Linked DNA regions of Homo sapiens. The protein of the gene in region 2 purifies or fractionates together with the protein of the main gene of each other region. This does not show direct contact. Each region holds a gene or a part of one and is shown on either strand. Other genes may lie near its edges.

The links.
Region 1: the proteins of AGPAT3 (region 2) and TOM1L1 purify together in Homo sapiens (affinity purification with mass spectrometry; 2 studies listed by BioGRID and IntAct, with this or other methods). This does not show direct contact.
Region 3: the proteins of AGPAT3 (region 2) and SCYL1 purify together in Homo sapiens (affinity purification with mass spectrometry; 2 studies listed by BioGRID and IntAct, with this or other methods). This does not show direct contact.
Region 4: the proteins of AGPAT3 (region 2) and SLC39A14 purify together in Homo sapiens (affinity purification with mass spectrometry; 2 studies listed by BioGRID and IntAct, with this or other methods). This does not show direct contact.

What each region holds. Positions count from the first base shown.
Region 1 is NC_000017.11:54,896,482-54,903,895, reverse strand, and holds the start of TOM1L1 (TOM1-like protein 1), read right to left. Parts: upstream 3,045-7,414; 5' UTR 3,031-3,044; coding exon 2,973-3,030; intron 189-2,972; coding exon 104-188; intron 1-103. UniProt on the Homo sapiens protein: Probable adapter protein involved in signaling pathways. Interacts with the SH2 and SH3 domains of various signaling proteins when it is phosphorylated. May promote FYN activation, possibly by disrupting intramolecular SH3-dependent interactions.
Region 2 is NC_000021.9:43,860,822-43,868,242, forward strand, and holds the start of AGPAT3 (1-acyl-sn-glycerol-3-phosphate acyltransferase gamma), read left to right. Parts: upstream 1-4,401; 5' UTR 4,402-4,524; exon of another isoform or gene 4,525-5,844; intron 5,845-6,317; exon of another isoform or gene 6,318-6,501; coding exon of another isoform or gene 6,502-6,525; intron 6,526-7,421. UniProt on the Homo sapiens protein: Converts 1-acyl-sn-glycerol-3-phosphate (lysophosphatidic acid or LPA) into 1,2-diacyl-sn-glycerol-3-phosphate (phosphatidic acid or PA) by incorporating an acyl moiety at the sn-2 position of the glycerol backbone.
Region 3 is NC_000011.10:65,520,133-65,528,111, reverse strand, and holds the start of SCYL1 (N-terminal kinase-like protein), read right to left. Parts: upstream 3,030-7,979; 5' UTR 2,959-3,029; coding exon 2,848-2,958; intron 2,559-2,847; exon of another isoform or gene 2,539-2,558; coding exon 2,398-2,538; intron 2,192-2,397; coding exon 2,069-2,191; coding exon of another isoform or gene 2,064-2,068; intron 1,989-2,063; coding exon 1,762-1,988; intron 1,330-1,761; coding exon 1,239-1,329; intron 1,151-1,238; coding exon 995-1,150; intron 1-994. UniProt on the Homo sapiens protein: Regulates COPI-mediated retrograde protein traffic at the interface between the Golgi apparatus and the endoplasmic reticulum. Involved in the maintenance of the Golgi apparatus morphology.
Region 4 is NC_000008.11:22,370,229-22,377,289, reverse strand, and holds part of SLC39A14 (metal cation symporter ZIP14 isoform a precursor), read right to left. Parts: intron 1-7,061. UniProt on the Homo sapiens protein: Electroneutral transporter of the plasma membrane mediating the cellular uptake of the divalent metal cations zinc, manganese and iron that are important for tissue homeostasis, metabolism, development and immunity.

The DNA.
Region 1 (7,414 bases), on a different chromosome or scaffold from region 2:
ACACTCTTTCAACAACAAAACCGAAATATTTGCAAGAGAAAACGTGCTGTAGTTCTGATGCTTCTTGTCAGAGGCAAATACATGGAAACCATGCTGTACTCACCCATCCTGGGTAGTGTTAATTATGTCACAGATGTGCATGAACTGGCCCCAATCTTCAGTCTGAACTCCAGCAAATGTAGCCTTTTCTGCCAAGAAAAAGCTGTTGAGTCTGAGCTACAACAGAATAAAAAATGTCTGGTATTCCTGAAATAATCTGCCTAGGCTGCACCAGCAAGTGTCATTAAGTTTACATTGCCAAAGGGCAAAGTGATTTTTTTTGGAACAGTTCTCAGTAATTCAGGAATCAATCAGAACCCAAGTTCAGAGTGCTGCTGCAGCAACAGTAATGAGTGACCTATTAATAAAGACCTCAAGCACAACAGCTGGCCACAGGCCCAGGCCAGGCCAGCTAAATCTCCGCCTGCCTGGCTTTCAGAGAAGGGAACTAGGGCTTAGTGAGCAGCTACCTAGAAGGTGAACTGCATAGTGCTAAGTATTTTATCATACGCAATTTCATTTAACCCACTGTGAGAGATGATGAGATAGAAGTTCAGAGAGGTTAGGAAATTACCAAAGTTATACAGTCAGTATGAAGTAGAATTGGCATTCAAATCTAGGTTGTTTGGTCCCACTGTTTGTTTTTAAAAATAATTTATTCTCTGGGGGGACAGGAGGAAAGAACTTTTAAAGGAGAGAAGTAATCCGTTGTTCTTAGGAGCCAAAACATTGGCACAACTCCAAATAAAAGTAATACGTTTATTGTCCTATCATCTTAATCTCACGATTCCTTCTAATTTTACCAATTATTATAACTTCAACCAATACTTGCAAAGACACTGCTTACCTCAACTATGTAAAAACTTCCATTGCATACACTTTTACTTTCAGCCTTAATTATTTCAAACTGGCGCTGGATAACTATCCGAACTAATAATAATAAGCATCTAAACTAACCACAGCTGCACCAGGCTGACCAGAATGCTTCTGCACTTGGAACCCTATGATTAGATAATCAGGCATCTTTCCCTCTCCAGACAGCCGCTTTAAGAATACAAGATGTTATCTGGAAAGGGTAATGGAACACTCAGTATGAATGCGCTAACATCTTCCTAAGAGAAGGACAAGATCCCTAAGCATGAAAACACCGGGTTCTGGGGGAAATGGAGAAAAAAACAAAAAAGATAGAGAAGGGGAAGAATAAGGACTTGCTTGGGGGAACCCCAAAGTTTAGCTTGCTTTCAATCCAGGAAAAGAACCACTTGAGGCGGGGCCCGGTGGCTCCCGCCTGTAATCCCAATCACTTTGGGAGGCCGAGGTGGGTAGATCACCTGAGGTCAGGAGGTCGAGACCAGCCTGGCCAGCATGGTGAAACTCCATCTCTACTAAAAATACAAAAATTAGCCTGGCGTGGTGGCATGTGCCTGTAGTCCCAGCTACTCGGGAGGCTGAGGAAGGAGAAGTGCTTGAACCCGGTAGGCGGAGGTTGCAGTGTGCCGAGAGCTACTGCACTCCAGCCTGGGTGTCACTCCCCGTCTCAAAACAAAAACAAAAACAAAAACAAAACAACAACAACAAAAAACTTGAATCTGGCACCGAATGGACAAAGCTTACCTCCCTAGAAAAGAAAACTCCTATTCACCCTTCAAAAGCCACGCAGAATTCATTTCTCCCTTCTCCTAAGTTTTGTGTGTTTTGCATTTTCTTGCATTGCAAAGGTGCCACACAAAACTGTGCCCGTCTTCTCTACAAGAAAGTGAGTTCCCTCAGGTTTGAGACCACGTCTCACCTTGGCCTCACCAGTGCCTGATCCAGGTCCAGGCACATAGCTGACAGTTAGTCCATGTTTACAGAATTAAAAAATTAAGCAGAAGAACTGCTGAAGTTTCGTTTGCCTATGAAGACACAGTCTGAATCCATTTCTGCTTGGGGTTCATTCTAATATCCAAAAAAGCACAGCCATTAAGGGAAAGCATCTCCTCAATGGTAGCTACTCTGACCATCTTATAAGGATGTGTAAACTAAGGTTCTGTTTAAGTGGTGTGTTCGGTGTCACAGCAGTTAGTAGAGCTGTGATCTAAATTTTCCAAATCTGGGCCTCTTTACTACAACTACTAGGTTCTCACGATTTCATCACCCCACTAAGTTCCTGACATCATCACACTTTGCCTGGCATTAATATGCACTCGTGCCACACCCAATTCCCAAGGGAGGAATCAGGGAAAAGAAGGAGCAGTGAGCTGGTGCTGGTAGGAGTCCAATCACTGGCTTCTACATACATCATGCAAGGTACATCCGGAGGAGAGAGAAATCATTTAGGTGGATGCTGGTGTAGTCCCTAGTGGCCTGCGAGAGACCTCCGTGGCCCCAGATGGCTCCTATGTTCCCCTCCTCTTCACTCCAATGCCAAGCATTTTCATTCTCTTTGTTTACCCAGAAAAGTAATCCAGGTTGTATAAGCTTGGCACTAGAGAAAACTGGTTTGGGGAGACCTGCCCCTCACAGTAAGGCCACATCACTTAGTCTCCCAGAGCCTCCTCTTCTGATCTGTAAAACGGGCATAACAATACCGTGCCCTGGAGAATGTGCCTTTAGGAATAACTTCCCCTACCGAGAAGTTTCTGGTGTCTCCTCGTGGAGGCCCAAACACTCCATGCCTGACTCCCGCGGTTCACCTGTTTGGTTCCACTCCCCAGGCGGCATCGAAAGGAAGGTACATTTTTGAGGACTGAGGTTCTACAGTGAGTTGGCCAAGAAGGAAACGACGAAAGGGGGCCGGGTGGAATGCGGGTGCCTTGGGAAAGTTGCGGGGGGAGGGGAATAATTTTTTCAAGTTGGACTAACTCCGTCCTCTGCAGGCCGAGAATGGATCAAGCAGGAAAGGATCCCACGGTCCCCTGCCTGCCTGGGCGTCTCTCCCCGCGCCTCCTTACCTATGAGGTGGCCCACGGAGGTCGCGTAGGGATCCCGGTGACTCTTGCCAAACGCCATGGTAGCGCCAGAGGGCCGGGCCCAGGAAATCCGCCTCCACCGCTCTCCGGCTCCCGACTCCACCCGCTCGGTACCCTTGGCTCCTCCTCTTCGCCCGAGCGCTTCCCGGGCTCTGGCAGAGGCGGTGCGTTCTGCGCTGCCGCTGCGGGGCGCGGGCACCGAGCGTGAGGAGCTGGGCGCGGGGCAGGGACGCGAGGGCGGGGCTTCGGGACGCCCAGCGCACCTGCAGCGCGCCCTGCGGGACCCGCGAGGAGGCTGCGCTGCCGGCTGCAGGTGGTACAGGCGGGTAGTGGCGGGTGTATGGAGCCTGCGAGAGTGGCGCGGCCGCCCGCTCGGATCCCAGGTGGGCTTTTCGCCCCGTGCAGGAGGAGCAGGCAGCCCAGAATCTCCAGCCTGGGAATTAGAGACCCAGGCTTTGATCCTGCCGCTTGCTGGGCACCTTGTCATTCTTCTCTGCGCCTCTTTGGCTGCCCTGGGTAGACCAAAGATAATAGGGGGTTAATAACACAAACCTCAGAATTATGAGAATTAAGGGAAGGACGTAACCGATTATGTCGGTGTCTGGTACCCACAAAATAAATAGTTAGCCACTGAATATACTGAATAACTAGAAATATTTACCCTCGACCTGCCTTTGTCCTAGAGATCCGGGAGGGGAGGTGTGCGCCCTGCCCTTTAAAGTTGTGGTCATGTCTAGGAGGAAGGATTGGCTTCGAATTTAGGGCTTCCCAGGAGCAGGCCCTCTTTGTCTCTCTACTATTTCCTCGAGGGACCACAGGGCGCCGCCTCGCAAGCTCTTGTTTTCTAACCCCACCTTCTGGGAGCCGTGTTTTCCAGCCTGATTCTAAAAACGGGAGAGGGGCTTTCCGTTTCTTCTGGCAAGGAGTATGCTTGGCTTTAGGCCTGCTTTGTAATGTAGGTTGGAATCTGAGAAGCCCAACACCTTTCCAGCTGCCCCTTCAGAACCAGAATTTATTTCCTATTCCTTTGCATTCAATTAACATCTGATTGGCGATGTTAACAATCTCCAGCCAGCAGGAGCCTGCCAGAGAGTGAGGTGTCCCCAGGCGATGTCAGATAGCCATAGATGAGCTCCTGGTGCTTGTAGATCCTGTTTCCTGTAGTCTAACTGCCACCCATTTCAAGTCTGTTTTTTAGCCCTGGAGATGGTGACTAGGGAGACGAAGGGGACCTGTTTTGACTTATGTCCGTGGTCTTGTGAATTTTAATATAGAGGTCAAAACCAATTGCCATGCACTCCAGGAGGCTAACATTTAATTATCTGTAACTCAATTATTTATAATTTTTCTTGACCAAAGTGAGCCAAAACCTGGGATTCTAAAATCTAGAATGAAATATTCTTGTTGTGATGATATGTCTCATAATGGGATTTGTCCCACGTGTAACTAATATTCTCCACCTGCCTATTCAGGGCGAGTAGCTATTTCAGATGTTGCCGTTTATCAACTTCCTTACTCATCACTATAGCCTCTGCTGACACTGTTGAAAACCTCTTTTGTGACATCACCAACCTAATCTGTATTCCATGCCTCTAGCAAAATATTTTGCCTTTTCTGCAACCTAGAATCAACCTACAATCTCTGAAAAAGAAAACCAATTTTAGCTTAGGCCAATGTTGGTGTCAGTGGCCTTCTATCAGTTAATGAGAACGAGAAAGGAACCGAGCATCCAGAGAGATAGATTTTTAACATACTTCTATGTGGGAGGTTTTTCTTTTCGTCTTCTTCTTCTTCTTTTTTTTTTTTTGTTTTTTTCTCCTATGTCTGATTTCCTTACATGACAGGACTGAGGCACCGAGAAAGAGGAGAAACAGTAGCAAGGAGTGTCTTCTGGACTTGATGCTTGGGTGAACAGAACCAAGGTTGATGAGTGCTACCTGTGTTCTATCTCAGCAATGCCTGGCAGAAGTTTTTCTCTCTCCCTGTGCCCTCCAGGGTGTTGTGGTGGTTGTTGCAGCCTTCTCTTCCTGTACTCTGTTCCGTTCTGCATGATCCCTCTTCTCTCCAGGCATGAAAATCAACGTGGTTAATGTTAGTAAAGTCTAGCAGCGGGGACAATAGAATTCACAGCTAAGTTGAGGTCAGAGAAGGAGCAGAATCCCACAGGGGTAAAATGACACCAGGAGTAAAATCTTACCACAATTTCAATTCCAAGAACACTTAGTCAACATTTATTTATGTAAAATGTGCTAAGTGTCTGCAACTAGAAATCTATCTTAATCTTCACAATCCTGAGAGGTGGGTAGTATTAACCTCATTTTTACAAATATATAATCTGAGATTCAGAAAGATCAAGTTTATAAATGGCTTCACTAAAGTTTGACTCATGGCTGCCTGGTTCCAAAGCCTATATTATTGTCACTAGGTGAATCTGTTTATTGAGCCTGATGTCTTGCTTTTTTAAAGGATCTGCTTGATTCAGTGCAAGACCTCTTGAAGAATACAGGAATAGGGGAAGTCATATACTTTGCTGGCACAAGGTCCTGCTTTTTTTCTGTTCTTGTTCAATAGCGAATATTTTTTGTGCTAGAACTATATGCCAGATATGTTCTAAACATATTACATGCGTTATCTCATTTAATCACATAATAACGTTATGAGACCAGTACGGTTATTACTTTATTTTTCATGTTAGAAAAACCAAAGTAATGGCTGGGCGCGGTGGCTCACACCTGTAATCCTAGCACTTTGGGAGGCCGAGGCAGGCATATCACCTGACGTCAGGAGTTCAAGACCAGCCTGGCCAACATGGTGAAACCCTGTCTTTACTAAAAATACAAAAATTAGCTGGGCATGGTGGCAGGTGACTGTAATTCCAGCTACACGGGAGGCTGAGGCAGGAGAATCGCTTGAACCCGAGAGGCGGAGACTGCAGTGAGACGAGGTCACGCCACTGCTCTCCAGCCTGGGCAACAGAGTGACTCCATCTCAAGAAAAAAAGGGGGGGGAAATAAGTCAATAATTTTTCACATAGTCACATTGCTAGGGAAGGACTGTCTAATTCCAGAACCTGTGACTTGAATGGCTGTGCTATGTCATCCCTCTTGGATAGAGCTCTAGATGGTAGGTGGTGCCCTTCACTAGTTCACATTTTGAAAGAAGTGGGTTCTAGGGGGCAGTGTCTGTAGAAAGAAGTGACCGAACTTGGCAAGTACACCTGTATAGAAAACAAAGATAACCCACCATCATGATTCATGCAGCTAAGAGATTTTTGCCTTCTCATTTGATTGTTTTTTTGTGTGTTGTGTGTTTGTGTTTTTTTTTTTGTTTTTTTTGTTTTTTTTTTTTTGAGATGGGGTTTCACTCTTCTTGCCCAGGCTGGATGCAATGGCACAATCTCAGCTCACCACAACCTTTGCCTCCAGGTTCAAGCGATTCTCCTGCCTCAGCCTCCCTAGTAGCTGGGATTACAGGCATGTGCCACCACGTTTGGCTAATTTTGTATTTTTAGTAGAGACGGTGTTTCTCCATGTTGGTCAGTTTGGTCTCGAACTCCTGACCTCACGTGATCCACCCGCCTCAGCCTCCCAAAGTGCTGGGATTACAGGTGTGAGCCACCACGCCGGGCTTGTTCCTTGTTTTAATATTTAAATGTGCTCCCTATAACCCTCCCCATAGTGTATCCACTAGCCTTCTCATTATCCTTCTCTTTTTCCGTGGGTCTAGTTCCAAACACTACCTACTCTCTCCCCCAACTCTCCCACTATAAAAACTAACTTTCATAGCTATGTGATCTTCAGCTTTAATAGTCATCCTCATCCTCTTTGACCCTCTGCACCACCCATGTGATGGCCCTTCCTTGTTAGCCAGCCTTATCTTTCAGGACACTTCTCTATCCTACTTTTTTTTTTTTCTCTCTCTCTCTCTCTGACTGCTAATTCTCAATGATCTTCATTTGATTTTATTTTCTTTCCATTCTGCTAGACCTAAGTAAGTCTTCCCACACTTCCGAGGTTCGCCTTTTTCTCTTTCTGCATTTCTCTCATCCCACCTTCTCCTTGTCCCTTCTTTATGAAGTCTTTTCTGACAACTCCCAGAAGAATTTAACTCTTCTTTTCTGTCCCAGGTACAGATTTCTGTCTTATAGTCCACAACATATTATATCACTGATTTGTTTAGAAATCTGTTCCCTGCCTCCTAGATATAGGCCCCACAAAGAAAAAGGACCCATTTGTAGGACTTGGTGTCCTGACACTCAATAGACCTTAAGGGATTTTTTTTTTTTTTTCTGAGATGGCGTTTCACTTTATCACCCAGGCTGGAGTGCAGTAGTGCAATCTCAGCTCACTGCAACCTCTGCCTCCCAGGTTCAAGCGATTCTCCTGCCTCAGCCTCCCAAGTACCTGGGATTACAGGCACACGCC
Region 2 (7,421 bases):
GCAGGGCTGGATGGGCAAGTTGTCCAATGAGGCCCCCTCAGAACTGGAAAGCCTCCTTCTGGGTGTGGAGGTGGGCAGCAATCTGCCATTTGGCCCTGGGGTCATCTCTCTGGCTCAGTTTGCTTATCTGTGAGCCCAGATGTCGGCAAGTTCAGGCTGAGAATTAGAGCAAATAATGAAGAGGGAGCCCCTTTCCCAGGGCCTGGCTCATATGCACCGTGGACAACAAATACCAAAAAGGCTGGGCACGTGGCTCACACCCGGAATCTCAGCACTCTGGGAGGCCGAGGTGGGTGGATCACTTGACGTCAGGAGTTCGAGACCAGCCTGGCCAACATGGTGAAACCCCACCACTACTAAAAATACAAAGATTAGCCGGGCGTGGTGGCAGGTGCCTGTCATCCCAGCTACTCTGGTGGCTGAATGAGGCAGAAGAATTGCTGGAACCCAGGAGGCGGAGGCTGCAGTGAGCCAAGATCGTGCCACTGCACTCCAGCCTGGGCGACAGAGCAAGTCTCTGTCTCAAACAAACAAATAAACAAAAAAACTACTTTTCTTCTTTTCATTCCTAGCAAAAATCCCCTCTCTGGACAAATACTACTCAAGGTCAGAATCTCCCTTTGCCCCCAGTTTTTCATTGAGGAGGCTGAGGATCTGAGTCTCTCTCTTTTTTTTTTTTTTGAGATCCAATCCAGTCTCACTCTGTTGCCCAGGCAGGAGTGCAATGGCATGATCTTGGCTCACCACGAGTCTCTTTCTTAATAACCAACCCCATTACCGGGTCAGGAGAAGCTGCTGCGCTGTGGCTGCATCAGGGCCTAGAGCCGGGCTGCCTGCCTCTGCTGCCCTGTGTGCTGGCGGATAAGGTAGGGAGGTTTGTTATGCCTCAGTTTCCTTAAAGGTAAAATGGGGTGTCAGTCGTCTCTACCTTGTGGCCTGGTTTTGGTTAATGAACTAATCTACACACATAACAAGGGCTCAACAAAGGTTAGCGATGACGTTTCCTGCCAATCTGAGCACCTGCACACTGGAACCCTGTAAACAGTTGAGGGTGGGTGGCTGACTTCCAGTTCCCTTCAAATGCTTCTCTGAGTGTCTGCGCACCTGCGGCTCTCCAGGGGCTCGACTCAGGTCTCAGTGATCACAGATTCTAATGAAGAAAGGGTCTGTCTCTGTCATCCAGGCTGGAGTGCAGGGGGCACGTTCATGGCTCACTGCAGCCTCGACTCCCACCTAAGCCTCCTGAGTAGCTGAGACTACAGGTGTGCTGGACCACACCCAGCTAATTTTAATTTTGTTGCCCAGGCTGGTCTGTCAGTGAAGTTTTACACCAGTGAGACAAACATAATATTTGGGGCTCATCTAAAAGCTCAAAGTGAGGCTGAAGGAGCCATCCAATGTTTAAATGAAGAGGTACATCATAATTCATTTTTAATAAGTATGCAGAGCTGGGTGGCTCATGCCTCTAATCCTGGCATTTTGGGAGGCCAAGGTGAGAGGATCGTTGAAGCCAGGAGTCTGAGAGTGGCCTGGGTAACAGAATGAGACCCCATCTTTACTAAATAAATAATAAATAAATAAATAGCTGGGCGTGGTGGTGCATGCTTATAGCCCTAGCTATTTGAGAGGCTGAGGTGGGAGGATCCCTTCAGGGATCCTGCAGTGAGCTATGATCATACCACTGCACTCCTAGCCTGGGTGACGGGGGGACACCCTTTTTCTAATAGTAATAATAAATTATAAAATATATAAATTATAAAATGTGTGCTTATGATAAATCTAAACATTACTACCTAACATACATAGAAATTTTATTGTAATAAAATTTCTTTACCCTTGCCCATTCACTATCATATCTTCACAGAGCCTTCTGGACTTGTATCTGCCTATGTTGTTTTCTGTTTTTTTTTTTTTTTTATTTGTTTGTTTGTTTTGAGACAGAGTCTCGCTCTGTCGCCCAGGCCAGAGTGCAATGGCTAGATCTCAGCTCACTGCAACCTCTGCCTCCCGGGTTCAAGCAATTCTTCTGTCTCAGCCTTCTGAGTAACTAGGATTACAAGAGAGCACCAGCACGCCCAGCTAATTTTTGTATCTTGTTTTAGCAGAGGTGGAGTTTCACCATGGCTGGTCTGGAACCCCCGACCTCAAGTGATCCACCCGCCTTGGCCTCCCAAAGTGCTGGGATTACAGGTGTGAGCCACTGCATCTGGTCTTTTTTTTTTTTTTTTTTTTTGAGATAGAGTCTCACTGTGTCACCTAGGCTGGAGTGCAGTGGCACAATCTTGACTCACTGCAACCTCTGCCTCCCAGGTTCAAGCAGTTCTCTGCCTTAGCCTCCCGAGTAGCTGGGATTACAGGCGCCTGCACCACGCCAGGCTAATTTTTTTTTTGTATTTTTAGTAGATACGGGGTTTCACCATCTTGGCCAGTCTAGTCTTGAACTCCTGACCTCGTGATCCACCAGCCTCAGCCTCCCAAAGTGCTGGGATTACAGACAGGTGTGAGCCACCGTGCCTGGCCATTTTTTGTTTGTTTGTTTGTTTTAAATAAAGCACATCATTGTATATTCACTGCTCTGCACTATTTTTATTTTTTAATTTAACAGATCTTGGAGACTATATCCTATCTGTGTACACAGAATTATCACATCACAACTTTAGAAAATGTTTTAAATTAAAAATGCTAAATGAATGTTCTAGAGTTTATTTAACCAAGTGTCTGGTTGTTCTCAGGCTTCCTGTGATTATAGGTATAGCTGTAAGTCAGCACATCCCTGTATCCACACATCCCGTGGTGCCTGTGAGAATTTATCTGTGGCACAGATTACCCAAAATGACATGAGGGGTGAGAGGTTTTACAAATGGTGAATTCCACGAGCTTTGCAAATCTTAACTCCTTTTTCAAGAATAAGGGAACTGTGAGTAGGACAGGTGCACGGTACTTTCATTTTATTTTAGTCTAAGTATTTTCTGAAATAATTTGAGGAGGCTTAAAGGGAGGTGCAAGCTGGGTGCGGGGGCTCATACTTGTAATCCCAGCACTTTGAGAGGAGGAGGTGGGAGAATACTTGAGCTCAGGAGTTCGAGATCAGCCTGGGCAACACCGTGAGGCCCCATTTCTACAAAAAAAATTTTTTTTAAATTAGCCAGACATGGTGGTGTGTGCCTGTGGTCCCAGCTACTTGGGAGGCTGAGGTGGGAGGATCACTTGAGCCCTGGAGTTCAAGGCTTCAGCGAGCTATGATTGTACCACTGCACTCCAGGGTGGGCGACAGAGCAAGACCCTGTCTCAATAATAATAAAAATAAAAAAAAAAAAAAGGAAAAAAAGGGGCACAGTAGACAGTACCAGTACTTGGTATTTTAAATGGTTTTCAAATGAAGCCCACCCAAGCTCAGCAAGTCCAGCCGGGGCCTGAGGACCTGAGCAGGCGCCAGGTCACACAAGGTACCGGGCGCAGGAGGCGGAGCCCGCAGCGGGCCCTGCCCTGACAGCGGCACCTGCGCGGCCTCCGCAGGTTCTGGGATCGGCCGCTGGCCAGGTGCAAGGGAGGGGGGACGGCAGCCGCTGTCCTGGGGCTGAGAGGGCTCCGCGGTCTGGAGGGGACGGCGTCAGCGCCCGCGGGGGTTCGCAGGGCAGCCCCGGGGCGACCCCCACCCCCGCCACGGTCAAGTGTCGATACAGTGTTGCCAGCCGGGTGCCAACTATGAATAAGTCCAAGGGCGCGGCACGTGGGCCGAAACGCGATCCTTCCGCGGAGCCGCTGCGCGCAGGGCCGTCCCCACCGAGCCCGCCGCGCGGCGACCCCTGACGGCGACCCTAAGCCCCGGCCGACCAGGGCAGGAGCTCGCGCGCGAAACTTCCCCGGCGCCCGCAGGAGACCCCGGCAGGGGAGATGGCGGGGCCCAGGCAGAGCTCGGAGGCCCCTCCCGGCCCCACCCCGCGCCCCGGCCCCCTCTGCCCCCGACCCGGTCCGGGGGAGCCCTCGCGGGACCCCAGCCTGGTCCTTCGCCGCCTCCCCCCGTTCAGCCCCGACCCCCCTGATCCCCGCGCCCCCCGCGGTCCCGGCCCGCCCCCTCCCCCAGCCCGGGCCCCAGCCCCGTCCGTTAGCGGATCCCACGCAGGCTCCGCGCCCGGCCCCGCCGGCGCCCTCGGCCCACACCTCTCTCCGCGCGCGTGTCCCGCCGTGTCGCCCCCGTGTCCCCTCCGCGTCCCCCCCCGCGCCGTCCCCCCGCGTCCCCCCCCGCGTCCTTCCCCCGTGTCCCCCCAGCGTGTCCCTCGGCCGCCCCGCGCGCGCCGGCGGAACTGTGGGATCGCCGCGCACAGGAAGTGGCGGCGGCGGCGCGGCCGAGGGCGGAGGGCGGAGGGCGGCGGGATGGGGGCCGGGGGCGGCGGGCGCCGCACTCGCTGAGGCCCCGACGCAGGGCCGGGCCGGGCCCAGGGCCGAGGAGCGCGGCGGCCAGAGCGGGGCCGCGGAGGCGACGCCGGGGACGCCCGCGCGACGAGCAGGTGGCGGCGGCTGCAGGTGAGCACCGAGGCCCCCACCCGAGGTCGGGCCGCCCCCCTCTTCCCCCACGCCCCGCCGCCGCCCGAGGTCGCCCTCCCGCCGCCGGAGGTCGCCCCTGCCCCAGCCGTCCGACCTCGGGCCGCCCGGGGCCCCGCGCCGCAATGGGCCGGCCGCGCTCCGCGGGGCGCGGGGCCTGGGAAGGCGCGGGGCCGGGAGGAGGTCTGGGCCCGGGTCCTGTGCGCCCCCCGCAACCCCGGCCTCCCCGGCGGCCTGGTCCAGCGCGAGGCCCCGGCCGCTTCCCGCAGCAGCCTCGGTGGCGCTGGGCCCAGCGGGGAGGCCCGGGGGTTCGGGGCGCCCGGGAGGGGCCCGGGCCGGGCCGAGGGAGGGCGAGTGGGTTCCCGCGGGGACGTCCCATCCCTCCGTCCTGGACTCTGCTCCGGGCCCCGCTCGGCTCCCCCGTGGACAGGACGCGCCCGCCGCCTGGTTTCGGGGCGCGGCGGACCCGGGACCCCCCCCAGGGGCCTCCTCCTCGCGCGCCCAGGCCAAGGGAGCAGTTTCACTTTTGCCGCTCCGCGCGGGGAGGGCTGCGGGGCCCGGGGTTGGCTGTGGGTTCGGCCCGGAGACCGGCGGCGCGTTTGCACCGGGCGGGTCAGGGGATGGGGTCAGTCCGGGGGCAAGAGCCGTGGGGGCGAAAACCCACTCCTGGCCACCCCAGGACCCTTGGAACATTGGTCCCAAGTACTTAGGAAAGGAGGGTTATTAGTATTTGAAGGCAGTTAAAAATGGTGCAGTGTTTTTTTTTTTTTTTTTAACTTTGAGAGAAGTTTAGTGACATGGGGAAAATGCTTTTATAAATGGCTTCCCAGACCTTTAAAAAAAAAAAAGCACAATTTTAAAAGCTTTGTCTAGGAGAATACTTGAGCAGTTGGGTTCTTTTTCCTGGGAAACATGATCTTAGTAGAAGAAAGATGTGGGCTGTTGGCCTCCAGACAGAGGGTGATGAGCATGCGGCTCTTATTAAAAATGAAAGCCAACGCCGAGAGCCTGCTGGGGGCTGGGAGGTGGGGCGGGCGGCGGGCCCAGGCTGCTAGAGGGACCCAGGATCCTGCAGCTTTTAAATTGCAGGCGCGGCTGCTCCGACTCGACTCGCTTAGGAATTGCTGAACTTCGTCTTCTCAGTTTGAAAGCTTCAGAGGGGTCTCCCGAGGATGCTGAGCACTCTCTTGATTTGGCCACTTCTTTGCCGCCCCCCCTCCCTCTTTCCAACCAATCCTCCTCCCCCACAGAGTTCGGCGTTAGCCTGTGCCTGTTACAACTCGCTTCTTGTATCCATTTCTGGTTAGTCTTAAGTATCTTCTTGAGGACATTGTCTAAAAAGCAGCTGCATGCCATTGACATTCAGACAGAACAGGGCCCCTTGGCCTTAGAAGGTGTAGGGGCCTTAAATATTCTGAAGGTGACTTCATGGAGTGGCCGCCCTCTGTGGTCACCCTACCTGTGCGTGGCCCTGTCCTGGCGTATCTGCCAGGGGGACGCGCTGCAGCAGCCTGAAGACTGCTGGGTTAAAGGCAGTGTGGCCGGGTGGGAAAGTCCCCAGGAGTGTGGATTCTAGAACAGGCCTTCCTGGAGGGAGGGTGCTGCCCCGCCCCAGGCTGGGGCCCCAGTGCAGACTCCACGCTGGGGAGCTACACCCTGCGCCTGGACGCGCGTCTGTGTGCCAGGACTGGGGAAGCAAACTGAAAGTAATGGCTTTATTTTGGAAATTAGAAAAAGAGCATTCACCAAAGTAATCTGTTCCGTCCCTGCCGTAGACACGTGACTGATACACCTGCCTCCCATCCCCTCCGCACTTTGACCTCGTAAACAAGTGATCTGACACAACAGGGCTTGAGTTACTTGCCCGAGGTTGTGTCACGGAACGGCAGGGCCGCCTTTAGGCTTACATCCCTGGAACTCCCACCTCCACAGACCCGTCCGGGTGCTGAAAGTCCACGGATGCTATCCCTGGTCAAATCAGAGGTAGGTGGGAAATGTTGGAATTCTCCTAAACAGGGAAGGGGAAGATCAGAATGTGTGTTTGAGAAGAGCCTGATTTCCTGGATTCCTTTGGAGGAGGGGTGTCCTTAACTTGCCCAATCACATTTACCCTGTTCATCAATCTTCAGCCCCGCTTAGGCTCTCACATTGCAGACCCCACGGCAGAGCCCCTAGTGCTTGGCACTGAAGAGCCAGTGCAGGCCCGTTGTCACCATCAAAACCCACCTCTGGTAAATTCAATGGCTTCTGCTTCCACGCTTTGCCCCCCCTCTCTGGCCTTGTCAAAAACTCTTGTGATGTCCCTGTTATAAGGTATCGCCGGTGGACTGGTGTTTCTAGATCGCAGCGTGGGACGTGATTGGCTACATTTGACTGTTTCCTTTTTAATGACTTGTTTAATGTGAGATCTTTAGCTGCTCCATCTCATTGCAAGATTTTTGTTACAGTAAAGTTGGACTGAGTTTTCTAAAGACAGTTGCTCAGAAATTTCATGGGAATTTACTTTTGGTTAACCGAAGAGTGTTTGGGGTTTTAAACGGGTCGTTTCAAGTGGTAAAGTAACATGACCACGAGGCGTCTGTCCTTCCTAAAACCACTTCATCATAATTTCAAGATTGATTCTAAATTACCAATTTCAAAGCGCTGCATTTTAGGCAAGTGCATTAATCGTTCACCTTCTGACAGGCTTTCATGTAGTCATTTACAAGCGGCCATGTTTTGATTATCTTTGTCAAGCAAAGTGCAGGAGACAGGCAGTCTCATAACCTTGGGGCAGTGTCTGTGTTTAGTTTTGGAGGCGGGAAGGCCGAGTTGATGGTGAAAGTTGGCCATTCTTTCTGCAGGGCCAAAGTCTGTACCTGGCTATTAGGGTGCATGGA
Region 3 (7,979 bases), on a different chromosome or scaffold from region 2:
AAGGTTGGGGATCTGGTCTGTTTACTTTTTGCTAGATTCTTGAGGACAGTGATCTAGGTCCGCCTCACCTTCCTCCACACCGTGCTGCCCACCCCCCTGCAGCCAGTACAGGGTGTTACACCCCTGGGGACCAGAGCCAGAATGTACACGTGGAGTGACTGGAGTAACCAGAGCTGGCCCTAAATGCCTGCTGGGCACAGAACACTATACCACACATTTTCAATTCTGACTCCTCACTGGGTCCCTTTGAAGTAGGTACAGGTTGAGTCTCCCTTGTCCAAAATGTTTGGGACCAGAAGTGTTTCAGATTTCAGATGTTTTTTGGATTTTGGAATATGTGCATTATACCAATTCAACATCTTTTTTTTTTTTTTTTTTTTGAGACGAAGTCTCACACTGTCGCCCGGGCTAGAGTGCAGTGGCACGATCTCGGCTCACTGCAACCTCCGTCTCCTGGGTTCAAGTGATTCTCCTACCTCAGCCTCTGGAGTAGCTGGGATTACAGATGCCCGCCCAGCTGATTTTTTGTATTTTTAGTAGAGATGGGGTTTCTCCATGTTGGTCAGGCTGGTGTCGAATTCCTGACCTCAGGTGATCCACCCACCTCAGCCTCCCAAAGTGCTGGGATTACAGGCATGAGCCACCGCGCCTGGCTCCAATTTAACATCTGTAATCCAAAAAAATCTGAAATGCAAAATGCTCTAATGGGCATTTCCTTGGATTGTAATGTTGGTGGTCAAAAAGTTTCCAGTGTTGGAGTAGATCATGCATTTTCGGATTAGGGATGCTCAACCTGTACTATTATTGGGACTGAACTTCAGCCAAGGGAAGTCACAGAGTAAGTATGAGCTGGAGCCTGGGTTTGAACCCGGATTGGCCTAACTCCACAGTCCATGCTTGTCTCCTGAGGGTCAATTGTGAGGTACCCTGAAAAGCAGGGTAGGGGCAGAATGAAAAAGATAGGGTCGAAGCCCAGGGTGGGTTGGGGGCTCACCTGAATCTCCTCCAGGAAGAGGTTGGTTTCTACAAAGCGGTTGCTCATGAAGCCACCAGGTGCCCGGCAGTTCTGCAGGAAGCGGGCTGGGTTGGGACGCACCTTGGGGTTTGCTCCCACCAGCTCACAGTAATGGGGCACCAGCGTTTTGGGGATCTGTAGGGGAGGGGTCAGTGTCAGGGCAGGGGTAGCCAGCTGGCAGAGGGGCTGAGGCAGGGCAAAGAGCCAGGGGCAAGAAACTTACCTTCCCAGGGTTGCGTAGGGCTGCTGCCCGAGGTAGGGGCCCATTGAAGACTTCCCAAATGAGGCAGCCCAAGCGCCACATGTCTGCTGACCTGTGGCAGTGACCCAGAGCTCTTAGGGCCCCACCAACCACCTGCACAGGCCTCCAGCCTGCCTTGGGCACCAGGCACCCACTGCATGCCAGGGCCTGGCTATGTCCCTCAGCTGAGCCATCAGTCCCAAGAGGCAGGTTTCATTAGCCTCACTTAACAGATTAAAAAAACCAAGCCTCAGAGAACTAGGCACATCTGTCCAGGTCACAGAGCTTTCAAGTTCAGAATCACCCAACCCCGAATGCTGTGTCCATCCCGCCCTACCGCCCTGAGGACCCTGGGGGCAGAGGAGTGTCCCTCACTCCTGGGACACTGATTCCCTCCCCAGCCAGGCAGCAGGGAACAGGGGAGTGCCAACTAGTCTAGGAGTCCTGAGGCTGCAGGGGCCTCCAGGACAGGGCAGGTTGGGGCGCGCTGCCCCCAGTCACCCACCACTTCTCTCTGACCACTCTGCCACTGCTGTCAGCCAACTCCGGGGGGTCATACTGCTCAAGCTCGGGGATCCCCTTGCGGGGAGGTCCCCCACCGTTGCCCTGGGCCGAATACATGTAGTCCAGGCCCCCAAGCTTCCACTCGCCAGCTCGGTCCACGAACACGGCGGCCATGCAGACATTGTTGTGGATGAGGCTGCAGTCGTTGACCAGGAAGCTGAGGGCTTTCTGGGGGCAAAAGGAGCCATCACGCCCCAGCACCTGCAACCCCCCATCCCTGCTCTCATCACCACTGCCCCCCACCTCACCACGATCTGGTGTAGCCCCCAGGAGATCTCCAGCTCCTTCAGGCCACCAGCCTCCACTCTCGCCTTGAGGTATATTCCCAACGGGGTCACAGCCTCTGTCACGACGTGGAGGCATTTTTCTGTCTGGGGAAGGGGACACAGGGTTATCAAGGGCGGAGGGGCAGAGAGGAAGGAGAGATAAGCGACTTGAAGTTGGGAGAGATGGGGAAGAGGAAACCAAATCTGGGGGTGCTGGGGCACATAGGGTGGAAACAGGGCAGGAGGGGAGACAGGAGTGGGTAACCAGGACATCGTGAGGGGCAGAGACGGGCAGGCAAGGCAGCAGGTACCTCCAGTCCATCGATGTAAGCCAGGATGTTGGGGTGCCGTAGAGTTTTGAAGCGCTTGAAGGCAGCTTTGGCCACCTGGGTCTGCTCTTCCGCGCCAGGCTTCACATCATAGACGAAGATGGACACGGGGCTGCCTGTGGCCTAGGGGAGGGCAGCGGGGCCTGAGATGGTCCCAGAGCTGTTGTGTGGCCGGAAGACAAGGGCCCGCAGCCAGGTCTCTCCCCAGGTCAGCCTTAGGGACACTTCGCCGGGCCCACGTGACCCCGGCCCTGTCCGCCTGTCGGTCCCTCGGTCCCTCCGCCCGCCACGTAGGCACTGCCCGCCCCCTCCCCGGCCTGCTACCCCTTGGTTCCGCCGCCACGTCAGGCCGGGCGCAACGCGACGGGGTCGGCGGCGCGGAATAGGCAAGGCCCAGGTCGACCGCGGCCTACGGAGCTCGGCCGCACTCACCTTCTTGCGGCCGCGGTGCAGGGCCCAGGGCCCGGGCAGGCCGCCCTCTGGGGGCTCCGGGATGAGCTCGAACGGAAAGTCCCGGACCGGGTCCCGGGCAAAGAACCACATCGTCCCCACCGCCGCCGCGGGTTCGGGCGCCTTAGCTCCGGGTCCTCCGGCCGCCCGAGCCGGGGCGGGGCGGAGAGGGGGCGGGGCCTGCGTCAGACGGGGGCGGGGCCCGGGGGCCAGGGCGGGGCCTACGTCGGGGCGGAGCAGGACGTGAATTGGGGCGGGGTGGGGCAGAACCTGAGTTGGGGCGGGAAGGGGCGGGGACAAGGGAGGGGCGGGAGAGGGGCGGGGATGGGGGGGCTAGGGAGGGGCGGGGATGGGGGGGCTAGGGAGGGGCGGGGATGGGGGGGCTAGGGAGGGGCGGGGCAGTCCGGGGCGGCGGGCGGTACTAAGATCAGTACTCCGCCGCCGGGTAAGTCACTTAAAACCCTCCAAGCCTGTGAGCCCTTTTATCTAAAGAGGCCTAAATCCTAAAGGATAATAGAGCCTGCCTTCTAGCGTACTGTAAGGATGAGAGCTTAAGAAGGGACAGAGGGATGGGGAAACCGAGGCAAAAAGGGGGAGAGGTAGAAAGACTGACAGGCATGAGAGGGTGCAGTGAGGAGTGAGGCAGAGACCCAGAGAGGGAGACTGGCCCCACGCCAGACACTCTCTCCCACCAGCAAGTGGGTGCCTCCAGGCTCCGGGGAGGAGTCGGTCCTGGTGAAGTGACCATGAGAGAAGCACGAGGAGACGCCCCAGAGAAAGAGCGTGGGTGAGAGGCAGAGAGTGAATCCAAGGTTCCAAGGAGGTCCAGAACCCCGGGGCAGGGGCGGGCACCCAGGGAATGGAGGAAGGAGAGACTGAGGAGGGAAGAAGAAGTGACCCCAGGAAAGGAGGGAGGGAGAAGGAGCAACTGGGCAGGTCTGGAAGAGGCCAAAGGGCTGGGAGGGGACCCTGCTCTCCTGGGCTCAGCTGCCCGGCTCTCAAGCCAACGGATTGCATCTCTCAGTGCCTGTGTAGACAGCCATGGAGTGGTGTTAGCTCAATCAGCACATCACACTGGTGGGGATCCAGCCCCTGAGCTGTGTAGGAGGGGCTGGACAGGCAGTGGTTCTTCTGCTGGTAGGGTCTCAGGACCCAGGCTTGGGGACAGTGCCTCAACCACAGCTATGGAGCACTGGTGAGATTCTGGGACTGGTTATGAAAAGTCTGGTTGGGATGCCTTTGGGAGATAACTCAAGGGCAGAGATGCCACAGTGAGACGGTGCTGGGTTTCAATCACGGTTCAGCCCCTCATTGGATGTGAGAACTCACACAGTTCCCTTTGGGTGCGTTAGGTCCCCCATCTATAAACTGGGGTGAGGGCCAGGCACAGTGGTTCACGCTTGTAATCTCAGCACTTTGGGAGGCCGAGGCTGGAGGATCACCTGAGGTCAGGAGTTCCAGGTCAGCCTGACCAACATGTTTGAAGGGGGCCTGCCCCTCCACACCTGTGGGTATTTCTCGTCAGGTGGAGACAAGAGACTGAGAAAAGAAATAAGACACAAAGTATAGAGAAAGAACAGTGGGCCCAGGGGACCGGCACACTCAGTATACGAGGACCTGCACCGGCGCTGGTCTCTCAGTTCCCTCAGTATTTACTGATTACTATTTTCACTATCTCTGCAAGGGGACTGCGGCAGAACAGGGTGATGGTGGGAAGAAGGTCAGCAGGAAAACATGTGAGTAAAGGAATCTGCATCATAAATAAGTTCAAGGGAAGGTACTGTGCCCGGATGTGCACGTAGGCTGGATTTATGTTTCTCTTTACCCAAACATCTCAGTGTAGCAAAGAGTAACAGAGCAGTATCACCGCTAGCATATCTCACCTCCAGCCATAGGGCAGTTTTCTCCTATCTCAGAATAGAATGACTGGTGGGCTTTACACCAAGACATTCCATTCCCAGGGACATACGGGAAACAGAGGCCTTCCTCTTATCTCAACCGCAAAGAGATCTTCCTCTTTTACTAATTCTCAGCACAGACCCTTTACGGGTGTCGGGCTGGGGGATGGTAAGGTCTTTCCCTTCCCACAAGGCCATATCAGGCTGTCTCAGTCGGGGAGACAATACCCAGGCTTTCTCGGGCAGAGGTCCCTGTGGCTTTGCACAGTGCATCATGTCCCTGGTTAATAGAGAATGGAGAATGGCGATGACTTTTACCAAGCATACTGCTTGCAAACATATAGTTAACAAGGCACATCCTGCACAGCCCTAAATCCCTTAAACCTTGATTCAATACAGCGCATGTTTCTGTGAGCACAGGGTTGGAACTAAAGTTACAGATTAACAGCATCTCAAAGCAGAAGAATTTTTCTTAGTACAGATCAAAACGGAGTTTCTTATGTCTTCTTTTTTTCTGCATAGACACAGTAACAGTCTGATCTCGCTTCCTTTCCCCCACATATGTGTGGGCGGAGGAATACCTAGGTGCGGAGGCAAGAGATTGAAGGCACAAACTGTTTCAGTATAAAAAAGAAAATAGTTAGAATAAGAATAGTCATAATACAAATTAGATATAGAGATGGTCATGAACAATTATCAATCATTGTTATAAGCATTATTAATCATTAGCTTTTAATATTACTCTTTGTTGCATTACTAATATAACCTAGGAATAACCGGCGGGTATAGGGTCAGGTGCTGAAGGGACATTGTGAGAAGTGACCTAGAAGGCAAGAGGTGAGCCTTCTGTCACGCCCGCATAAGGGCCTCTTGAGGGCTCTTTGGTCAAGCGGTAACGCCAGTGTCTGGGAAGGCACCCGTTACTTAGCAGACCGCGAAAGGGAGTCTCCTTTCCTTGGAGGAGTCAGGGGACACTCTGCTCCACCAGCTTCTTGTGGAAGGCTGGATATTATCCAGGCCTGCCCGCAGTCATCCAGAAGCCTAAACCCCTCCCTGTGGTGCTGTGCTTCAATGCTCACGCTCTTTGTCCACTTTCATGCTCCTCCCATACTCCTGGTTCGTCTTTGAAATTCGTAGTAGATAGAGGTAGAAGAAATAGTGAAAGTCTTAAAGTCTTTGATCTTTCTTATAAGAGCAGAGAAGAAAACGCTGACGTATGCTGCCTTCTCTCTCTGCTTCGGCTACCTAAAAGGGAAGGGCCCCCTATCCTGTAATCACCTGACCTGCTTCACCTTGTCAATCACTTAGAAGATTCACCCTCCTTACCCTGCCCCCTTGTCTTGTATACAATAAATATCAGCGAGCCCAGCCATTTGGGGCCACTACCGGTCTCCGCGTCTTGATGGTAGTGGTCCCTGGGGCCCAGCTGTTTTCTCTTTATCTCTTTGTCTTGTGTCTTTATTTATTACAATCTCTAGTCTCCACACAGGGGGAGAACACATGCTAAGCCCCGTAGGGCTGGACCCTACACATATGTTGAAACCCCGTCTCTACTAAAAACACAAAAATTAGCCAGGTGTGGTGGTGGGCACCTGTAATCCCAGCTACTGGGAAGGCTGAGGCAGGAGAATCGCTTGAATCTGGGAGGTGGAGGTTGCAGTGAGCCGAGATCGCACCACTGCACTCCAGCCTGGACGACAGAGCGAGACTCCATCTCAAAAAAAAAGTGGGAACTTGGATGGGCACGGTAGCTCACGCCTGTAATCCCAGCACTTTGGGAGGCCGAGGCGGATGGCTCACCTGAGGTCAGGAGTTCAAGACCAGCCTGGCCAACATGGTGAAACCCCGTCTCTACTAAAAATACAAAAATTAGCCAGGCGAGGCCAGGCGCAGTGGCTCACGCCTGTAATCCCAGCACTTTGGGAGGCCGAGGCGGGCGGATCACGAGGTCAGGAGATCGAGACCATCCTGGCTAACACAATGAAACCCCGTCTCTACTAAAAATACAAAAAAAATTAGCCGGGCGTGGTGGCAGGCGACTGTAGTCCCAGCTACTCCAGAGGCTGAGGCAGAAGAATGGCGTGAACCTGGGAGGCGGAGCTTGCAGTGAGCCAAGATCGCACCACTGCACTCCAGCCTGGGCAACAGAGCGAGACTCTGTCTCAAAAAAAAAAAAAAAAAAATTAGCCTGGCGTGGTGGCACATGCCTGTAATCCCAGCTACTCAGGAGGCTGAGGGAGAATTGCTTGAACCTGGGAGGCGGAGGTTGCAGTGAGCCAAGATTGCGCCATTGCACTCCAGCCTGGGGGACAAGAGTGAGACTTCGTCTCAAAAATAAATAAATAAATAAAATAATAAAATAAAATAGTGGGAACTTTAAGCTTAGCTAACAGGGATCCAAATTCTTCAAGAGAAAGTATTTGTTGTTCAGCCCACTGTAAGATATCAAGAGCTACTTGCTAATGGCCCACACTTATTTTGTTGATGACTTATCATAGGAAAACCTTTGGTGTTCTTTCTACTTTATCTTATATTATAACGCATGAAACAGAAAAGCTGCTGTAAACAATGCTGAATCTTATGTAACAGCCAAATTTAATTTTAGAAAGTATTTAAATTGTGCTCTGTCCTAGATCTAAATGTTGAGAATTTTAAAAAAAACAAACGTTTTAACATCTGCCAAAGCATGTAAGAATAACTTCAAGCTGCCGGGCTTGGTGGCTCACGCCTGTAATCCCACCACTTTGGAAGGCCGAGGTGGGTGGATCACGAGGTCAGGAGTTCGAGACCAGCCTGGCCAACGTACTGAAAGCCCGTCTCTACTAAAAATACAAAAATTAGCCGGGCGTGGTGGCATGCGCCTGTAATTCCAGCTACTCTGGAGGCTGAGGCAGGAGAATCGCTTGAACCCGGGAGGCGGAGGTTGCAGTGAGCCGAGATCACGCCACTGCACTCCAGCCTGGGACAGAGGGAGACTCCATCTCAAAAATAAAATAAAATAAAATAAACAATAATAACTCCAAAATTAACATTATTTTGACTTCCTATTATTGTCTTTCCAAAAAATGGCTCTGTGTTTTTTGTTTGTTTTGATTTTTACTTCTTTGTTTGGTTTGGTTTTTTTGTTTGTTTTGTTTTTAGCAAATATGATGCCTAAAAAGTAAACTGTTCAGGGTTCTGGCCTATTGTGGTCGGCAGAATACTAGCCCCTCAAAG
Region 4 (7,061 bases), on a different chromosome or scaffold from region 2:
TTAAAAAAAAAAATGGCAGGGGCTTACCAGAAGAACACAGGAGACAACCGGAAGGAGCTCCCAAAATGGTCAAAGCTAGAACAATTTGAGCCTCAAAAAATATTATTCAACTTTAACCCACAGAACAAAATCTGATTATGAATAACCAAATGCATAAATAAATGGGGAAGCAGGGCCAGCTCTTGCTTACAAAGAATTCCAATAAATAAATGTACAAGAGGGAAATAGAGAATCATTAGTCAAACATCACAGTCATCATTGTTGCAAGCAGGGTCTACAGATGGGTGCTAAAATTAGGGGATGAAAGTACAAGGAGAAACAGGATTTGCATAGTCTCAAAGTATCTCCTGAAACTACAAAGGGAAAGAAAGATAACTTCTTCAGTTTATCCATTCAGTATTTTTTTTTTCCCCAGACATTGTCTCACTCTGTTGCCCAGGCTGGAGTGCAGTGGCTCCATCTCAGCTCACTGCAGCCTCCACCTCCCAGGTTCAAGCGATTCTCCTGTCTCAGCCTCCCGAGTAGCTGCAATTACAGGTGCATGTCACCATGCCTGGCTAATTTTTGTATTTTTAGTGGAGATGGGGTTTCACCATGTTGGCTAGGCTGGTCTTGAACTCCCGACGTCGGCCTTTGCCTGCCTCGGCCTCCCAAAATGCTAGGATTATAGGTGTGAGCCACCGTGCCTGGCCCCATTCAGTTTTTGTAAAACAACAACAACAGAAAACCCACCTTTTTTCAGTGTGGAAATCAAGCAGACACCAGCCAATCTAGATAAATGTCACCAGTAAAAAAATACTCCAACATGGCCGAGTGCAGTGGCTCACGCCTATAATCCCAACACTTTGGGAGGCTGAGGTGGGTGGATCACTTGAGCTCAGGAGTTCAAGACTAGCCTGGACAACATGGTGAAACCCTGTCTCTACTGAAAATACAAAAAAAAAAAAAAAAAAAATTAGGTGTGGTGGCTCATGCCTGTAATCCCAGCTACTTGGGAGGCTGAGGCAGGAGAATTGCTTGAAACTGGGAGGTGGAGGCTGCAGAGAGCCGAGATCACACCACTGCCCTCCAGCCTGTGCACTGAGTGAGACCCTGTCTCAAAATTAACAACAACAACAAAAAACTGTGACATGATGAATACCTCTAAAGGATGCAACATCACTTTGCGTTCCAACATTCTAGCAAGAAAAGAGGGAGAGACTGCCACAGATTGCAGCAAACTAAGGAGAAATAACTAAACAGTGTGGGATCCCATATCAGATCCTGGAAACAGCAAATGGACATTAGTGAAAATATTGGTGACGTTTAAATAAGGCCTGCAGTTTAGTTAACAGTGTTATGCCAATGTTGATTTCCTGCTCCTGATTATATAATTATACTCTGGGGTGAGGAATATAAAGGAATTCTGCTATATTTTTGCAACTCTTCTGTACATCTAAAATTAGTTCAAAAGAAAAGTTTAAAATAAAAGGAAATGGTTAAGCAAACTAAGATACAGCCATGGCTGGGTGCAGTGGCTCATGCCTGTAATCCCAGCACTTTGGTAAGCCAAGGCGGGTAGATCACCTGAGGTCGAGTTTGAGATCAGTCTGGCCAACATGGCGAAACCCCACCTCTACTAAAAACACAAAAATTAGCCGGGCATGGTGGTGCATGCCTGTAATCCCAGCTATTATTAGGGGGCGCTGAGGCAGGAGAATTGCTTGAACCTGGGAGGCGGAGGTTGCAGTGAGCCGAGATTGTGCCACTGCACTCCAGCCTGGGCAACAGAGTGAGACTCCGTCTCAAAAAAAAAAAAGATACAGCCATAAGGCAGAATAAATGCTTAGGGAGAAATTTTGATGTCGAGGTAAGATGGGTGTAGATAGCCAATTGTATCCCCTCCCCCCAAAAAAAAAACAACTGTAAGGAAATATGCCAATATGTAAAGAGAGACTGCAGCAGGATTATCGACTTTCCCCCAAATACTTTTTTGCACTTTACAATATGCATGCATTACTTTTAATAATCAGAAGGAAATAAAGTCGACAAAAATACCAAACAATTGTTTGGGGGAATTCTGTGTATAGTTAATCACATCTATTACAGTTTCTGGGAGAGACTTCTAAGGGCTGTGTTCAGACTGGAAAGGAGGCTGCTAGATGCTTCTGAGGGCTAAGGAAGGTGGCAGGAGGCTGGAGGAAGTGGACTGGTACAGAGGACATGGACGTGGGGCCATGGAGTTGCTCCAGATAAGAGCAGGCTGGCCAGGCGCGGTGGCTCACGCCTGTAATCCCAGCACTCTGGGAGGCCAAGGCGGGTGGATCACTTGAGGTCAGGAGTTCGAGACCAGGCTGGCCAACATGGTGGAACCCCATCTCTACTAAAAACACAAAAATTAGCTAGGTGTGGTGGTGTGCACCTGGAGTCCCAGCTACCTGGGAGGCTGTGATGGGAGAATCGCTTGAGCTCAGGAGGGGAGGTTTCAGTGAGCTGAGATCATACCCACTGCACTCTAGCCTGGGCAACAGAGTGAGACCCTGTCTCAAAAAAAAAAAAAAAAAAAAAAAGAGCAGGCTGGCAGGCTGCACCCCAAGACAGAGGGCTGCTGGCAAGTCTCTGATATGGAAACAGCTCTGAGTTCCAAGAGAACACTCGTACCTTAGACACCCGAGCCATTCAAGACTCCTAGACCCAACGTACATTTCCAGCTACCTCACTTGCTGCTCCCTCTCAGCCACTCTGGGCCACGTGTACCATCCCACCAGCATTCACACGGCTCTCCTTACCAGGACCCTGCTCTCTCTCCCGCTTCCTAGCTTTCAAGATGTGGCTCAGTCCCTCCCCAAGAAGCCTTCTCTGTCACCTCCTGCCACTCCCTCCTCTGGCCTCACCCAGTACCCCTCCTCTGTTCCACTTACTGCAGCTTCAGGAAGGCCATCCTGCATCTGACTTTCCACACATGCATAGCTCCTCACACATTTCACAAGCATCTCGGGAATGGAGATGGTACTCAGCAGCTCTCTTAGCTGAGCGCCACTGGACTGCTCAAGGACCCCAGGTCTCCAGTCCCTCCCTGCAGCCAACAGGCCCCTCGCCAGGTGGCCAACCTCCCCCCAACCCCACCACCTGCTGTCACCATTGAGGGTTCCCATGCCAACAGCTGTGCCTATTCCCAAACCTCTTTATGCAGGTTCTATTTATTTAAATGATTATGATTTATTTAAATAACAACTGAGGGCTGGGCACGGTGGCTCACGCCTTTAGTCCCAGCACTTCAGTCCCAGCACTTCGGGAGGCCAAGACCGGTGGATCACTTGAGCTCGAGTTCGAGACCAGCCTGGCCACCATGGCGAAACCCCATGTCCACTAAAAATACAAAAAATTAGCTGGGCGTGGTGGCGCGTGTCTGCATCCCAGCTACTTGAGAGGCTGAGGCAGAAGAATCACTTGAACCTGGGAGGTATAGGTTGCGGTGAGATTGCGCTACTGCACTCCCGCCTGGGTGACAGAGAGACACTCTGCCTTGGAAAAAAAAAAAAAAACGAGAAAACAAAAACAAAAAACCCTGAAGAATAAATGCAAAGAAAAATGTCTGACTTCTGAGAAATTTAAGCTAAGTGATCTCGAACAGTAATTCTGAAATTACTGTCTTATATGACACCTGGGGTCCCTGAAGTAAAAGACTATTTTTATTCTAATATACAAAAATTAAAAGCTTTTCACTCTCACTTTTCAGAAGCTACATGAAATGTGACACGTACCTGTGTCATCTTGAGTCTTTGAGAAATTTCTAAGGTAGAAGTTTAGGGTATAATATAATATATAGGTGGTCTCAGAGATTAGCTCAATTTGTTCTCAGAACTTTTAACTGACTTCTTAACAGCAAATTTAAGTTACACCTATTATAACCTGTTATCTCATTATCATCCAATAAATAATTATTTTAAAATCCTGAAATTTCTAAAAATATGCTAACAAGGCCATTCTTTTGACTACTTTATTTTGGAAAATATAGTTATTTTTCATGAAACTTTTTTTTTTTTTTTGAGATGGAGTCTCGCTCTGTCACCAGGCTGGAGTGCAGTGGCGTAATCTTGGCTCACTGCAACCTCTGCTTCCCAGGTTCAAGCGATTCTCCTGCCTCAGCCTCCAGAGTAGCTGGGACTACAGGCGTGCACCACCACACCCAGCTAATTTTTTGTATTTTTAGTAGAGACGAGGTTTCACCATGTTGGCCAGGATGGTCGGGATCTCTTGACCTTGTGATCTGCCCAGCTCGGCCTCCCAACATGCTGGGATTATAGGTGTGAGTCACTGCGCCCGTTCAAAACATTTTTTTTTTTAATGTTAACGTGTAATCGCCTTATTTTTGCTTTTTAAATGAATAAATAACTATTTTAAAATTTCTCAGTCTTGAGGCTGAGGCAGAAGGATCGCTTGAAGCCAGAGTTTAAGACTAGCTTGGGTAACGTAGTGAGACCATGTCTCAAAAAAATTTTTCTTTACTTAGTTTTAATTTTTAATATACTATCAATACAGATAGCCACATATACAAAAGACAATGTAAGGGGTCCTAGCATCAAAAAGTTTGAGAATTACTCATCTAGAAAGATTTGTTGCAAATGGAAAAATAATAAAAAGCTGAAATTAAACTAGGTATGTACATAAAAGCAGTAACTGGATTCCGAACATGGCTGTTTTGCAAATATCTCTTGTCTTCGCTTCATTTTTTTATTTAGTGAAAGCTAATTAACAGATTTAACCTTTTACCCAGCGATTCCACTTCACAGATATATTCTGCAAACATAAGCGCAGACAGGGTGATATGTGTGTTGGTTAAAAAAGATGATACTTCCATACTATGCAATACTACACAGCTATGACAGAGAATGCTAAAAGCATTCTATGTGCTGATATGGAAAAGATCTTAATATAGTTGCTAGGTGAAAAAAGCAAGGTGCTGAATGATGTTTAAAATGCTACCTTGGAGCATTTATTGAAAAGCTGGGGGAAGACAAGGTTTTGCTGTTTTTTACCGTCTTGATTTTTCAACTATGTGAATACGGAGCCTAGTAGGAAAAAAAAATTTAATAAAATGAAAGAAATGAGAAATTACAGGTAATACATTTAAGTATGATTTTTATATACAAACAATTTCTAAGTAGTCTAAATAAGGGATCTAAAGACTCAAAGGAAAGGGCTTGGCCCTAAATCAAAGTTTTGGTGAATAAAAATACATACATGTTTTAAAGATAAAATAAAGGGGCCGGGTGCAAGTGGCTCACACCTGTAATCCCAGCACTTTGGGAGGCTGAGGCGGGCGGATCACAAAGTCAGGAGTTGGAGACCAGCCTGGCCAACATGGTGAAACCTCGTCTCTACTAAAAATACAAAAATTAGCCAGGCGTGGTGGCGGGCGCCTATAATCCTAGCTACTCGGGAAGCTGAGGCAGGAGAATGGCTTGAACCCGGGAGGCAGAGTTTGCAGTGAGCCGAGATCGTGCCACTGCACTCCAGCCTGGGCCACAGAGCAAGGCTCCGTCTCAAAAAAAAAAAAAAAGATAAAAGATATGATTTGGCTGGGCACAGTGGCTCATGCCTGTAATCCCAGCACTTTGGGAGGCCGAGGTGGGTAGATCACGAGGTCAGGAGTTCAAAACCAGCCTGGCCAACATGGTGAAACCCCGTCTCTACTAAAAATACAAAAATTAGCCAAGTGTGATGGCAGGCACCTGTGATCACAGCTACTTGGGAGGCTGGGGCAGAGAATTGCTTGAACCCAGGAGGCAGAGGTTGCAGTGAGCCGAGATCGCACCACTGCACTCCAGCCTGGGCGACAGAGCGAGACTCCGTCTCAAAAAAAAAAAAAAAAAAAAAAAAAAAAAAAAAAAAAGACATGTATTTTTTTTTTAGATATCCAACTTTTATCTGATTTTTTTTATTAACTACTAATACTGAATGCACTGCCTACGAGGGCCATTAGGAACTCGGCGGTAATAAATGTAGGGCATTCACCTTCTCATTCCACCAAGCCCCAAGATTCTCTGGGGCCTGCCCTTGGAGGGAGGTTAGGAGTTCTAACAACAGTCCGATCTCCAGTTGCCAAGGCGGAGAATTCGGTTTCCCATGGCTGGGCACTCTGGGCTCCCTTGGGCAGGCCAATTCTGTGGCTTTCCCGGCCTCTTTTCCTTGTGCAGGTCAGAGGGCCCAGCCTCTGCGTCTCTGCCTCTGCCAGGCCCAACCAGGGGCCCCCTGAGAGGTTTAATGCCCACGGTAGTGGGGGGAGGGGGGAACAAGATAGTGGGGCTTCGTGACCCTGTGTTCTAGGGCCTGCCCTCCTGTCCCCTAGGTGGGCATGAAGCCCTGGCTGGCGACAGTCGATGGGGCGGACTCTGGACTCCTTATCTCCTGGCATTCCACCAGCCCACCAGCCTGGAGGTCAGAGAAGCCCCACTGCAGACACCCGGTGAGTCCCGGCTGGGCTGAGCAGCAGGTCCCTTCCCTGCTCACTCCCCAGCCTCCCATGTCTCCAGGGAGTCTGGAAAGAGTAAGAGACTCCTCCAGAAGAAACTAACACCCCCTCCCTCAATAAGCACAGGGACAAATGGCCCCTTCCTCTTCTAGTTTCCAAGCAAAGACTGGAGGTGTCAGCAATTTCATAATCACATTTAGGATCAAAAATAGAACCCTTCTTTGGTCTTCTCCATCAAGTCTCTTGGCCACTGGCAACCATGTGACTCGGGAATACCAATTCACCTCCCTGGATCCAGTTTCTTTCACTGTAAAATAAAGGTGCTGGACTCCAAGATCACCAAAGTCCCCTGCTCAACATTCCATGGTTGTGGGGCTCAGCAACATGGTGCAGCATTACCTTGGCCAGGTCAGGTGCAGGCAGGCTATTATCCTGACATAGTGGGGAGAGGGAGGTCCTGGTTCCCAGGCACGCACAATCTATTCACAACACTACTGTGTAAACCCCATGATTCTGCAAATGTTGGACAGGGATTGAGTTTCCTCTTGGAATAGTGCAGGGTGTGAGCAGGTAAGGAAGGAGGAAGAAGGTAAGCAGGGTTTAAAAA